Regions from separate parts of the Homo sapiens genome. Here region 2 is linked to region 1. A link means that fine-mapping ties the variant in region 1 to the expression of a gene that starts in the linked region. Tissue or cell type: whole blood. Region 1 holds a variant in brackets; the other region holds the start of a gene. All regions are shown on one strand. Distances are between the middles of the regions.

Evidence for each region. PIP is the estimated chance that this variant, and not a neighbour inherited with it, causes the effect.
Region 2: VTI1A starts here. The variant in region 1 is fine-mapped to the expression of VTI1A in whole blood (TOPMed, PIP above 0.99).

Annotation. Positions count from the first base shown.
Region 1 is chr10:112,575,272-112,583,119 of GRCh38, forward strand. All of the region lies in intron 5 of VTI1A (vesicle transport through interaction with t-SNAREs 1A), which reads left to right. Among named protein-coding and RNA genes, the nearest start is that of MIR4295, 55 kb to the right of the region's middle. The variant T/C (reference allele first, on the strand shown) is at 3,644.
Region 2 is chr10:112,444,485-112,450,799 of GRCh38, forward strand. VTI1A (vesicle transport through interaction with t-SNAREs 1A) reads left to right here and starts at 2,731. Exons shown (of 8, transcript NM_145206.4): 1 at 2,731-2,983. The coding sequence starts at 2,890. It overlaps ZDHHC6 (zDHHC palmitoyltransferase 6), which reads right to left and starts at 2,430. Exons shown (of 11, transcript NM_022494.3): 1 at 2,221-2,430; 2 at 686-1,166. The coding sequence starts at 952. RefSeq lists enhancers at 2,217-2,336, 2,537-2,796.

The sequences.
Region 1 (7,848 bases):
GAAAACTGATGAAAGTTAGGTTGTGTTCCTGTAGTTCGTTTTCAGTTTCTGACATGCAGATCTAATTTATGGATCTTTTCATTATAATCTTTGTAGCTGTTTTCATAAATGTACAAGTCAAGGTTTTCTTCATGTGTGTTTAAATATCACTGATATTTATCCTCTCTTTGCAAGAGTGGATATTGATAATGGCCAATGGTACAGCAGTTTTCTGCTTCCTTCAGTAAGCGTTTGTTCGCGTCCATTGTGTGTTTTCAAGAATGTTAACGTTCATCTTCATCCCTGCTGAGAGTGCTCTATAGGGAAACATGCTGGCTCTGTTTACAGTCCAGTGGAATTAATACTGCCCTCATTTAAATTAGCAATTTATTAACTAATTACAAAACAAAATTACCTTTTACCTTATGAAATTAATTGTTTAATATTTAACTTGAAGGATGGCACTATGTTATTCTTGTTATGAAGGAACATTCATAAAATCATTTCATTGTCTTTTTAATTTTCTCAGCAGCATTGGAGCCATTGAAACGATTTTGCCTGATAGACTTCATATTTTTAGCATTCAAATTGTTCTGTTAAATTAATACTATTCCATTATTTTAGATGATATCTTGTTGAAGAGAATAGCTTCCAATTAGCAATTTATTGTGTAGAAAAGTTTAAACCTCTCGTGAATTTTTCTTTGTTTGTTCATTCTGTGTATCTTTTGCCCATTCCCACCCTGCCCCCTGCCTTTTCTTTTCTTTTCTTTTTTTTTTTTTTTTTTTGAGAGGGAGTCTCGCTCTTTCGCCCAGGCCGGACTGCAGTGGCGCTATCTCGGCTCACTGCAAGCTCCGCCTCCCGGGTTCACGCCGTTCTCCTGCCTCAGCCTCCTGAGTAGCTGGGACTACGGGCAACAGCCACCGCGCCCGGCTAATTTTTTGTGTTTTTAGTAGAGACGGGGTTTCACCGTGTTAGCTAAGATGGTCTCGATCTCCTGACCTCGTGATCCGCCCCGCTCGGCCTCCCAAAGTGCTGGGATTACAGGCGTGAGCCACCGCGCCCGGCCCCCTGCCTCTTCTAAAAGGGCCAGACCTAACATGTTCAAAATATTTGCTGTTTTAGCATGCATTTAATCATTAGATCGTTTCTAAGTACCTCCTAGGAGCCAGGCACTGTGCTAACATTCAGGAAACACCCAATTTAATAGCCTTAGAACTGTACCATTCTCAAAATAGAAACTTTGGAATCTGAAGATAATAAAAAAATTTCCAAGTGGAAGTTGAAATTACATTTTAAATATATTCTTGGAATAAATATTAAACTCTCAAGAGTATCTTGGGGTGGGATGGTGGAATGGTGATTACAAGGTACTACCTCCCATCATCTATAATGGTAATATTTTAATGATGCATTACTTTCCTAATCAGACGAAGATTAAAAATAAGATGTTTTCTGATATTTCAAGAAGCATTCCTTCATTCTATATTTGAGTGCCAAATATGTACAGGGCTTTAGGCTATATATGTCACAGCAGTATTTTTCAAATTTTGTTATCATGACCTATAGTAAGAAATACATTTCACGTCACAATTTATATTACACACACCCACACACACAAAACTGAAATAAATATTTTATGAAACAATACTTAGCCTTGCTAACTACAGATAGTATATGCCAATATTTTCTACTCTTGTTGTTTTAAAAAAAGAAATGGCAGTCTTGATTTCTAAATTGATTTTATAATCCGTCTATAAGGTCACAATCCACAGTTTATGTTAGGGATGCATAGATAAATAAGTTTTAGCTCTAACTTAGAGCTTGTATATTCCAAGAGGGAACATAAAACATGCCTACAAAGAACTCACTGAGTCCTCACGTGGTGGGGAGAGAGCTCTGATCTTTCTTCCTCTTTTTATAAGGACACTAATCCCATCATGGAGACCTCATGACCTCATCTAAACCTGATTACCTGTACTATCACATCTAGGGGTTAGGGCTTCAACGTGTGAATTTTGGGGGACAGAGACATTCACTCTATAACAATATTTTTCTATCAACCAACTTTAAAGCAACTGAAATTTTTTATTACATATCCTTATCCGCATGAGTTAGACATACCAGTCAAGCTTTCCCTAATATCTAAATATATAATTGTATAATGATTGAAGTATATACCACCAAGAGTAGACCAGGCACTCTTTGGTAAACAGTTAAAAGTGAGAGGGTTTTGGGAAACTAAGTCCAGGTTGAAGAAGAAGATAACATTTGGAATGGGGCCTTGAAGATTGGGAGCAGTTACAAAGAAAGCCATCCCCTGTGGGGATAACATTGTGAACAAATAACATGCCAAGTAAAAAGTTGTGTTCAATAGCTTCTAATATGTTCTTATTAAAGGCATATGAATGACAGGGTGATATGATGAGGCCTATACTTAAGGAACATTATCCTGGTAGTAGTGTGGGAAAGGAACTGGGAGATGGACAAGCTGGAAATATAATTTAATCAAAAATTGTATTTTAAAATTAGACATAGAATCATATGTACGTGGTTAAATCAGCCAAGCAGCCTTCCAGGCAGTGAAGAATTGCAAGAGGGCATGATGCAGGGAAAAGACCATCAGACCACCAAATCCGTTCGCTGTTTAAGTTTCAGCAAATCATTTACCCATTTTCTATTCTCATTTCTTCTTTTGAATGGGGTTAATAACGCTTATCCGACCTCATAGACTTGCTGAGAAAATCAAATGAAAAAAGTCCGGAAATACTATGTAAATGTGAAGTAACTTTCTTATTGTTTTGTTTGAACCTTTTTGAGCCCAAGAAGTGACCTGGTGATAACGATGCTTTAGGAGACGAATCTGGCCAGTGGCATATAGGACAGCTCAGAGGAGAAGAAACCCTAAGGAAAGCATTTCAGACAGTATGGCAGCAGGTCATAGAAGAAATAACTGAGGCTCGAATTAGGGCTGTGAGAGCAGGAATGAAGAAGAGAGGATGGATGCCAGAGACATCACTGAGGAAGAATCAACAGACGCAGCAATTTGGCTCTGAGGATAGGAGGTGGGGGGCAGGGATGAAGGGAGAGTTAGGAGAAACCCTATCAGAAATCCACGGTTTCTGGTTGAGTAAAAGGTATATATTGATTGAGTAAACAGTAAAGGAAAATCAGGAGGAAGAATAGGTTTGGAGGGCAGAAAATACTGAATTTAAGATATTAACAAAGTGCCCAAGTGTTTTCATTGAGTAGCCAGTCAAACCTCTGGGATTGAAGCTTAGGAATGAAGTTATAGTTAGACATGTAGACATAAATCATTCTTGAACTGATAGTCATTTAAATCTATATATTTCAAACTTTATCCATATGAGTGCAACTTGTAAGCTTTTTGTCATATTTGCATGATACTTTTACTTAATATTTTCAAATCTATTTTAAGTTAGCTCACTTTTTGAAAGCGTAGCCCCATTCTAAACAATAATATCTTGAATTTGATGTGATGGATATAGTTTTTAAGATACCCATTAGATGTATAATTACCATATTGCATGATTGTAAGATGTGTATCTTTTTACAATTTAACATTTCTGTAATTAGAGTGTTTTACAATTAATGGCATCTTACAAACTCTGCAGGCCAGCAACAGTGGTGATATACTTGTCAT[T/C]GTCAGCACATGAGCCAACTTGCTTGCTATTCCTGGTGACATCAGCAGAAAAGTGTAAGTTTCTATCAACAAACCATTTAAGGATCTTTATAGAAAAGAATATGAGTTTAATTGTCATCTGAAAAACCTTACTTTCTGGTACATGGAAACTTACAGAATAGTATCAGCAACATGGAAGATAATCCCAGAGACACACTTAAGAGATGCCGTATCCCAGTACCCTTGATGCAGCATCAGGTGCAGAGGACATTGATGACTGTAAGTTGAAAAGTGAATCAGAAGAGGTGGACACTTATGTGTGGAAAAATTCTAGGAAAACCTTAACCCATTCATTTTGCTTATATTTCCATTTTGTGTATGCACAAGAGAGATGTATGTAAGATCTCTGAGTCAAAAAGAGCTCATTGAATAAGCATAAAATAAAAATTTTAAATGATAAGAAAATATAGTGTCATAATTTAGTTGACAGCTGTTTTCTGAGTAGTGTATAAAAAATGGTGCATCTGGCTGGGCACTGTGGCTCACACCTGTAATCGCAGCACTTTAGGAGGCCGAGGTGGGAGGATGGCTTGAGGCCAGGAATTTGAGACCAGTCTGGGCAACATAGTGAGACATTGTCTTTTAAAATAAAAACTAAAAAAAGGTATATCTTACAATAGATGCTGACTAAGGTTAGATTGAACAAAGTTTCCAAATAAAAAAGTGTCAGTTCATGTTCCACTTAAAGTCATCTCATAAATGCTACTTTTCAGAAACACATTTAAAATACGGGAATAAATAAGATCACCCAGAGAATACTAATAGAGAAGAAAAGAGCCTTAGAACCCTAAGGAAAGTGCATTTCACAGGAGAAAAGAGAAAGTGGGAGAAAGTAAGTGAAGAGAATTTGCAGATAACTCTGGGAAGTGCAGCATCATGGAAGCTAAAGAAAGAGATTTTTCAAGAAAGAGAAGTAACTTAGAATAATTAAATACTATAGAAGACCCAGAGAGTATTCAAACAGGTAGGAAGTGGTGGCTTTTAGGAACAGAAAAGTTTGAGTAGTGGAAAAGTTGATCCTAGAATTTTCTTTTTAAGAAAAAGTGACTGGGGAAGAAAAAAAGGTGGTTTTGATGAGGATTAGAATTATTATTTTTTTTCTTACGTTCAGGCTAGAGATCCCTGATCATGTGTTGGGGCCTAGAGGTGGAAACTGGTAAAGGGGTAGTGATGCCAGCATGAAGGAACCTCATTGATCATTTCAGGACCTGGAAGATGTACAAAGGGATGGAATCAACAGCAGAAGTTGAAGATGTAACCTCAGAAAGGAGAAACACTTCCTCTGAAGCAGGGGTGAAAGAAGCAGAAGATAGATTTTGAATAATGTATAAATATAGAAGAGAGAACTTCTGGAGAATCACCATGATTCCAAATAGGAAGCCAAGTTACTCCCTGAAGGTGAAAGGCAAGGTCAAGAACTTAGAAAGAAGATGGGAAAGGCTGAGAACAGTTGTGGTGGGGAATGTCAAGGTGACTCAGCAGGAGCGGGATTGGAAATTGCTGAACCATCGCAAAGGCCCAGCTGAGGTTAGGAAGCATTAATGTGTATTGGGCTCAATAACATGGTTTCACAGTTCTCCCCAGGATTGCTTGGCAGACCAAGAATGGAAGCCAAGAAAGTGAACAGTGGAAAGTTGATGCCTTTTGAGAACTAGCAGACTAGGAGTGACAGGAGAACAAAGAGGGAGTGACTGTAGGGTAGTAGGGAGTGCAAAGTTGAAATGGCTAACTGTGGGAGGCAGGCCAGATGGGGAGGCAGTGAAAGGCCAAATCAGGGTGACAGATAGGAGGAAAAGGGGGGCATCAGGTGATTGACATTTCACAGTGTGCATAGAGAACCAAGAAGGGAAAGAAGGAATGTGGGAGTCTGGTTGACTAAATGGAGATTTTGAGAATTTCAAGATTTTGAATATAGAATATTTAGGAATAACTACGTACTGGAATTACGAATGTACATGTCTTCTTAGAGGGCAGTGTATATAGCCTGATAGTCCATAGCAATAGATTTGGATCTGAACCCAAGACCTACTAGCATTTATACACCATATGATCATGCTAAATATAAGTTTGCATTTCCCACATGCACCCTGCATAGTTCCTAGGAAGATCAACTCTATGGATCACACCAGTGGGCTCCGCATGCCTTCTGGGTTCCAGTTAGGTCACCCCGTGGGAGCTCTGGCAGAAGATGGAACACAGGGAGGAGAGTGTAGTCCAGGTATGAATTCACTTGGTTCTCTTCCTCTGGGATTGCAGTGGGCTGGCTGCATCATTCTCTCTGCATAGCCCTTTCTTTCAGAGTCCTGATAACTCCTCCCTCCCTTCCCATATTCAAGCCTAGGGGTGATAACTTGTCCACTGTTACTTGCCCCAGGTTAGTGTGCCAGGCCTTGTGGTTTCCCACGCCTTTTAAATTATCTCTGTTACAAGGTCTGCTTAAATTACCAATTTGAGTATGTGGTCTGATTTTTATTGGGACTCATAAAAATCACCTTGTGTAAGTTACTTAGGCTTTCAGCCTCACTTTTCTAATCTGCAAGATTGAGATAACAGAAGTACCTACCTTGTGGGTTTGGTAGACAAATTAGATGTGATAATGTGAAATCCTTATACAATGCAAGGTATATATTAATAGTAAGCTCTTGATAAATTATGATGATGATGATTGATTATGATGATGATGATGCAGATATAGACACTGGAATTTCCATTTATGTTTATAGAGATCTATAGATCAGCGACAGCATTCCTGTTAGCAAATAGCACTTCCTGATGCGTCTTCATCAATGGCAGAATTTAAGGGGCAAATTGAAGAGGGAGGACACTAGCCACCTCCATAATCTCTATTAGCACCTCCCCTGAAAGGCACTTTAGGTTGATAGTATCACAACCTAATATGTGGAAAGAAGAAACTTAATAGGCAAAATGCTCTAAACTACAATTGGAATATCTTTACTATAACATCTAAGTAAAAATAACATGTTTGATGTGCAAATGCAACTTCACGGCAATATCTCTGACTTACCTCCTTGACACACCTTTCTGTCTTGATGCTAATTTCTGTCTTAGTCAGCTCAGGCTACCATAACAGAATACCACAGGCTGGGTGGCTTAAACAACAGAAATTTATTTCTCCAGTTCTAGAGGCTGGAAGTCTGAGATCAGGGTGCCAGCATGGTGGAATTCTGGTGAGGACTCTCTTCCTGGCTTGCAGATGGCTGTCTTCTTGCTCTGTCGTGGAGTTAGAAAGAGAGAGAAGGACACTCTCTCCTGTCTCTTCTTATGCGGGCACTAATCCATCATGCAGACCTCGATCCCATGACCTCATGACCTCCCCAGTGTGCATTCTCCAGATATATTACATTGGGGATTAGGGTTTCAATCTATGAATTTTAGTGGGCAAAGACATTCAATCCATAGAATTCACCTCTTGTTCCCCCAAATATATGTTCTCCTCACATGCCAAGTACATTCCTTCCACCCCAGCAGCCCCCAAGGTCGCTGTTAAGTATGGAAATTGTGGAACCATCTCTGGTCATCTTGCTTGTGAGCCCTTCTCCAGATCTCATGGTGACATAGCTAGTGGAAACCTTTGAGGGCATGGCTGTGCCTTTTAGGTGGTAGAAAAGTAGTGATTTTAAAGACTTGTGGTCCAAGAATGACTTTGGTAGAGAGGAAACTCCAAAACGCTTACCTTGTTAAATTTGTTATGACCTAACAAGGCAATACTTAAACTTGAAGTGTTCTAAATTATTAATCTATAATAGTGATGCCATCTTATACTTGATTAGTGCCTTTTAACTTAAACGTGTTTTTAGTCACTTTTTTAACGTATAAATATTATTATATTGTAAATATAACTCCTCTGTGAGGTCAGCCACCTGGAGACCACCACTGTGCACCAGCTTTGAAGAACACCAGTAAGTATCTCTTGGCTGTAAAAAACCTCCAAGAAAATAAGACCCTCTAAATCTCCATCAGTGACCTGCCCAGCTTTACCACTGACCATGATGCCCAGGAAGGGAGGCACGTTTGCTGATACATGTATTCAATACTAGAGCAGTTCTGTAAACTCTTCCCAAATCGTTTAAGTGGTTTCATGTTTCATGTCTTATATGCATGTGGGCATCTTATAGAGATAAAGAAAGGAAAGGGGAGCGATAAAA
Region 2 (6,315 bases), 130 kb before region 1:
TACGCATTTTGAATAGTACATAGCACATGATATACACCAGTGCTTCCCGAACTTTAATATACCTAAGCATCACCTGGGCACTTTATTAAAATAAAGATTCTGCTTCAGTATGTCTGAAGTGGAGCCCAAGATTCTGCCTTTCTGACAAGCCATCAGGTGTGGTCCCTTAGCAGGAAACATGGACATTCATAAGCATAAATTTCCCAGTAGTTTTTAAGCTATAAATGGATTTGGACTATACTTCCCAATGTTATATTTTCAGTGCAATGATTTTAAAACTTTATGATTTAAACCAGCAGTTTCTAAAGCGTTTTTCTCAGTTCTAAGGGATGTTAATGTATTACATGAAAAAAGGTACTACAGCCAAACCTCACTGTGTATGACATGTGATGTTTCCTAAACTTTTGACCATGAACCTATCCCACCTCCACCCCACCTCCATCTTTTTTTTAATGCAGAGCAAATATTCAATAAAATTGCTTTGGAAAATGCTATTTTGGATCAATGTGTTCAAACAGATATGAAATAAAGTCTCCGAGCCTAAATGATCAGTGATTAGAGTAATATACTTAGTCTCTGTGAGGACAAACAGTAGGCTGTGTTTGGTATTATTGGTTAGTAGATAAGGCAAAAACCAAATATACGATTATCATTAAAGTTCATTGTCTTACAGAATCTTTCTTACCGGTTTCCACCCCAGAGGGACAAAGCCCGGACCGACAAACATGGCATTGAAGTAATTATAAAGAATCATGACAGTCCAATTTATCAACATGATGAAATTCACACTTCCTCCAGTTGTATGTAAGGGCCAATACCACAACACAGAGTCAATCATGGCCATGGTAGAACATATTGCTATAACACCAAGGGCTATGATGGGACCCCAGTGACACAGTCTCTTTAATTCTTGTAGATTTTCAAACTTGATAACCGAACAGAATGTACCCATTTTGGCAAGGAAGAATGCCTTCCTACTTTAAAAGAATTATAGATTTCCTTTTTCTGTGCGCACATTTCCATGTGCCACAAGTCCATGTGTGTTCTTTAATTGTCATGCCTTCAAGCTGTGAACTGTTAACGCAGATTACACCATTTTCACTGTCAGGCACCCAAAGCTCTTTATCTTAACTAGGAGAATCCAGTGTCTTGGTCTGAAACCCAACCTAAAGAAAACAAAATGGGAAAGTTCAGTTAAAACAAAACAAAACAAAACCTTTATTGCATACCATACTTGTTAACTACAATAAACACCTACACAACAGCATCTCACAAGTGCACTACACTTTGGGATGCATATCTTGTCAAATGTCAAAAAGAACTACTTTTGACTTATCCAAAATATGGTACAAGTTTGAATGGCATGCAAACTGGATACACGATTCCAAAATAGTTTTTTTTATTCCTTCTCCGCTTGTCAGGGGACTGTCACCATCCAACGCTTAGTGAATAGTTTGAGAAGACAAAGAATTTTAGGACCTTAGAGTTGATCTAATTCAGTTTCCTTCTTCATAGAACAGAAATTGTCTTAGAGAGGCTGAGTGATTAGACCAAGGTCACAAGTAACAGGTGAACCAGAATAGAAGGCAAGTCAACGACCTCCCTTTATGAAATTCTAAGCTGCCTCTTATGAAGTCTTGAATTAAGCCAAGTATGAGTCAGACATGGTCTATGCCATTTGCCTGCAGTCTCCTCCACCCCGCCACCCAAACATCAAGAGAACAGTCAATTTGGCCCAAAAGTAAAGGAGCGACAGTGAAAGCAAAGAGAGCATGCAAGGAAAGGAAGGGAGGAGATAGAGCGAGAGTGTGTGTGGTGTGTGTGAAATTATGACCAGAAGAGTATATGAGAAGAACCTGAATTAGAAGATTCGAGGGAAGAAAGAAGAGGAAGTGCCTCCAGGAGCGAGGGAAATGGAAGGCAGGGCGGCGAGCTCCGGAGAGATTTGTGGAAGGGCATCTCTGCCTGGACTGGATCTGAAGATCTGGAAGAGGATCTGAGCTACATGGATAATACAGACTACCACGCAGCAGACGCTGTTGACTTGTGCCTCAGTTTCCCGCCCGAGTCATGGAGCAGAGGGCTTAGAAATAAATCCTCACCCAAGGAAGAAATATCCTGGTAAGCCAGGTTGGTCTCAACATTCAGGAGAGCCTGCTCCCACTCTGGTGGGACAAAGACCACCAAAATCGTGCTTATATTCCCTGCCTTGACTCCCACCTCAGTGTGGTCCCTGGTGTCTGCTCCTCAGCCATCGCATATCCGGGGCGGCCTGGGCTCACCCGGAACAGATTTTTTCCTCCTTGGATGACTCCGTCATGGACACCTCAGCCCAGGACAAGCAGAGAGCAAACCCTGGCAGCGAGAGGCTGGAGTGCGGGACCTGCTACAAGCCGAGCACCTCTCGGCCAGCGCCCTCGCCAGGACTCTCCCGCTCAGGCCCCCTGCGCAGTCTCTGTTACTGTCACTTCCGGAGGTTCGCCGCCTCAAACCTCCCTCCGGAAGCAAGCTGCTGTGCCTTGTAGCGTGTGGATCCGGAGCCGATTCCCAGAACACGAAGGGGGGAAAAAACGCTTCTAATGATCCCTCAGAACTTGCATATTTTCATACGCTTTTCTGGGGGGAGGCACTAATTGGGGCGCTTTTCCTTTGCGAACTTACTTATCTTAAAGTCGGAGCGGAAAATAAAGCACGCACGCAACCCAATTTCCGGAGAACCGAGATTGCGACGAACAACCAGGAAGCGGCTGGGTTGAGAGCTGTCCCCGGTTCTCCGTTCTGCTCTCGGGGGCACCTTCCGGGGTTCCTAAGCCGCGGGGCCCCTCGCTGCCCCTCGAGGCCCTTTCCCTGACCTAGGCTTTGGCCTGGGCTACTCGTTCCGGAGCCGCCATGTCGTCCGACTTCGAAGGTTACGAGCAGGACTTCGCGGTGCTCACTGCAGAGATCACCAGCAAGATTGCGAGGGTCCCACGACTCCCGCCTGGTGAGAGCCTTGCCCGGCTGGACGAGGGTGCTGGGGAGAGCTGGGAGGGTGCGGGCGGTGGAACGCCGCCCGAGTAAGTGTGTCTATGAGGCGCGAGGCTGGAGTGGGTGGTGCCGGCTGTTCCCAGGAGGGATACGGCTTGGCTTGGTTGAGGGTAAGGAGTCAAGTTCGGGTGTGGGGTGCCGTGAAAAGAGCCTTCGGAATCTGAGCCATCTGAGTTCGAATCCCGGCTCTACCTTCTTGTAACTTGCATAACCTGGAAACGTTTCTTAACGTCTTAAGAGTCTTAATGTTTTCATTTGTAAATTATAGACATGTGAGTATTCAAAGAAAATGAATGAAAGTATGTAGCCTATGGATCTACAATCTACAGCGGCGTTGTTGTGTTAGTAATAATATTGTTATAATTATATGCGGCAAAATAGAGGTAAGAATCAGGGTGCCTAGATTCAAATCCTACCTCTGTCACTTAGAAGTTGTGCCTCTTAACCCGGGAGGCGGAGGTTGCAGTGAGCCAAGATCTCGCCATTGCACTCCAGCCTAGGCAACAAGAGTGAAACTCCGTCTCAAATAAATAAATAAAATAAAAGTTGTGCCTCTTAAACAGACTTCTTAGTCTCTTTCAACTTTCCTTCTTAGTAAATGGGGGAAAATTGTACTTCTCTCATGGGGTTGTTAGGTAGATTAAATTTATATAACATATTTAAAGTCACTTTTGGTGTTGTTAGTTGCTGTATTAGCATTAGTATTTTTCATACCCCCCACCCCCATTTCTTGTTTCTCATCCTTCTTGGGGATTTATTGTATAACCCAGTTTCATGTAAAACTTGGTACAAGATAATTTTTCACACTTAAAAATTTCACATCTCCCATCTGGAAATGTTTTTGTTTTTGTGTTTCCTTTTGTGTTTTAGCACATCTTATTTTCTATGCTAGACTGTCAACTATGTGAAGGTGGGAGCTGTGTCTGATTTCCTTGGCGTTTACTTATTAGGGGCTCAGGAAAATAAGTGAATGAGCAGGTGAATATAAATATGATCTTTTGTAACTATGGTTTGTACAATGTTGATTCGGGGACTATCTTTCTCTACAGATTAGAGTAGTTAGTTACAGAAAAGGGTTTTACATTTTTGTTTAGTTTTGTTAGGGAAATTGAACCATCATCTGGCTGCTAGACTTGTCCCTACCCTAGCTCCAGGATATAAAGTGTAGAAAGGTGGATGTGCTCATTAATCTGCGGATTGGTGGGCACTTCACTTGCCCACTTGTCCTGGTACTAGCAATAATTTCTCCCGGACCTAAGTTGTCATTCCTCTTTCCCTTTCCCTACTTCCCCCAAAACTTATGTGTTTATAAGTAATTTTCTTCCCTTATTTCTTTGTTTTTCTTCCCCTCACCTATTTTCTGTTAATAGGGATATTTGCTTGAAGCCAGGATCTCTGAACTTATACCCCACTCATCTCCTGAAGTCCCCAGTTAGTTCTGGAGGAGATGGATGATGTCTTAAAGAGGTTTATGAGTCCAAGTAAGGGAACAAGAGGAGAGAACCAAGGTAGTATATACCACCAAGCTCTGCTGCCTCAGAGATTTTTGTGTCGAAAGTGGCTGATGGCCTCATCTCTTCATGATACATCACCTCGCCTCTTCTCTTCAGTTCTGCTTTTCTCCACTGCCGGAGATCGTCTTGATTTTTGTTATTGTTGGAGACTACTTCCTTTGAATTGAGTCCCAGAGCCTCAGAGTATCAGGACTTGTGGTTCCAGTTAGAGTTTTACTCATTTTTAATTGTAATTGTTTTAGCAGTAGAAACATTTCTTTGGGTTATTAGTTTTTGTATTGGGAAGCTGTTTTACAAGGTAACAAAATCATCCTTGGATGCAAAGTTGTAAATTTCCAAGAAAACAGATCGTGTTACAATTTTTTTCTTGCCTTTATATTTTAATGTGACAATTCTTAACACATAGAAGGAAACTTTTTGAATTCAGTACCTTAAAAATAAAACTGGGCAGAGCCCGGTGGCTCATGCCTATAATCCCAAAACTTTGGGAGGCCGAGGCAGACGGATCACCTGAGGTCGGGAGTTTGAGACCAGCCTGGCCAACATGGAGAAACCCTGTCTCTACTAAAAATACAAAACTAGCTGGGCGTGGTGGCACATGCCTGTAACTCCAGCTGCTCAGGAGGCTGAGGCAGGAGAATCGCTTGAACCTGGGAGGTGGAGGTTGCGATGAGCTGAGATTGCGCCATTGCACTCCAGCCTGGGCGACAAGAGCGAAACTGTCTCAATAAATAAATAAATTAAAAAAAAACTATGTCTTTCCTTAGCTGTAGTATTATATAAGGCCCAAACACAGGAGCTTCATTACAATTGAAAGGAGACTGCATTGCTGGCTCTGGAAGAATGCTTACTGACTTGTATTATTGAATAATCATAATTCTTTTTTCTTTATGAGATGGGGTCTTGCTGTATCGCCCACGTTGGAGTGTAATGGCGCAATCTCAGCTCATTGCAACCTCTCCCTCACGGCTCAAGTCTACTCCCACCTCAGCCTCCCGAGTAGCTGGGACTACTCAAGCCACTGTGCCCGGCTGATTTTTTTTTTTTGTAGAGATGGGGTTTTGCCATGTTGCCCAGGCTTGTCTCAAACTCCTGGGCTCACGCAATCCACCCACTTGGGCCTCCCAAAGTGCTGGGATTACAGGCGTGAGCCACCGCACCTGGCCTGATCATAATTCTTAAAAACGCAGTAGTTGCCCTCTTAATAATGACTTGTGCTTGCCCCTTTTTAAATCTATTTCCAATTGATGTATAGAAAAAGATGAAAAATATATCCATGTAGTTATGAATTTCAGATGTATGTCTGTAGATGAACAGACATTAATATATATAACCATGGCAAAAATAGTTTGATGACAAGTAATTATAATCTCTCTCTCTGGCCATCATTGGCGAGTGCAGTGTTGAGCTAAAAGTGACCCAGAGGAGGTGAACTATAATTTACTTGAGTTAAGAAGGATAAAAATTGGAGCAAACTTTCCAGCCAAAGCAGTTAATTCCCCCAACATAGTAACTTACTTAAATTCAAGTAGAGTGGGTAGATCTATTGAAATGAACTTTACTCTGCTGTGCATGTTACAATGTATTAAAGTATTGCTTCCAAAGAGAACAGAAGAGTGAACATTTAAAAATTTTATTTTAAGAAAGAAATCTGATTACTCTGTGATATTTTTTAAACAATAAAGAGATTTTGCTCTTAAAGTGTTTGAATCTTAACTAATTTTAGTAATTGAACTGAGATGGGTGAGTTCTTTCTTAATACCCTATGGCACTA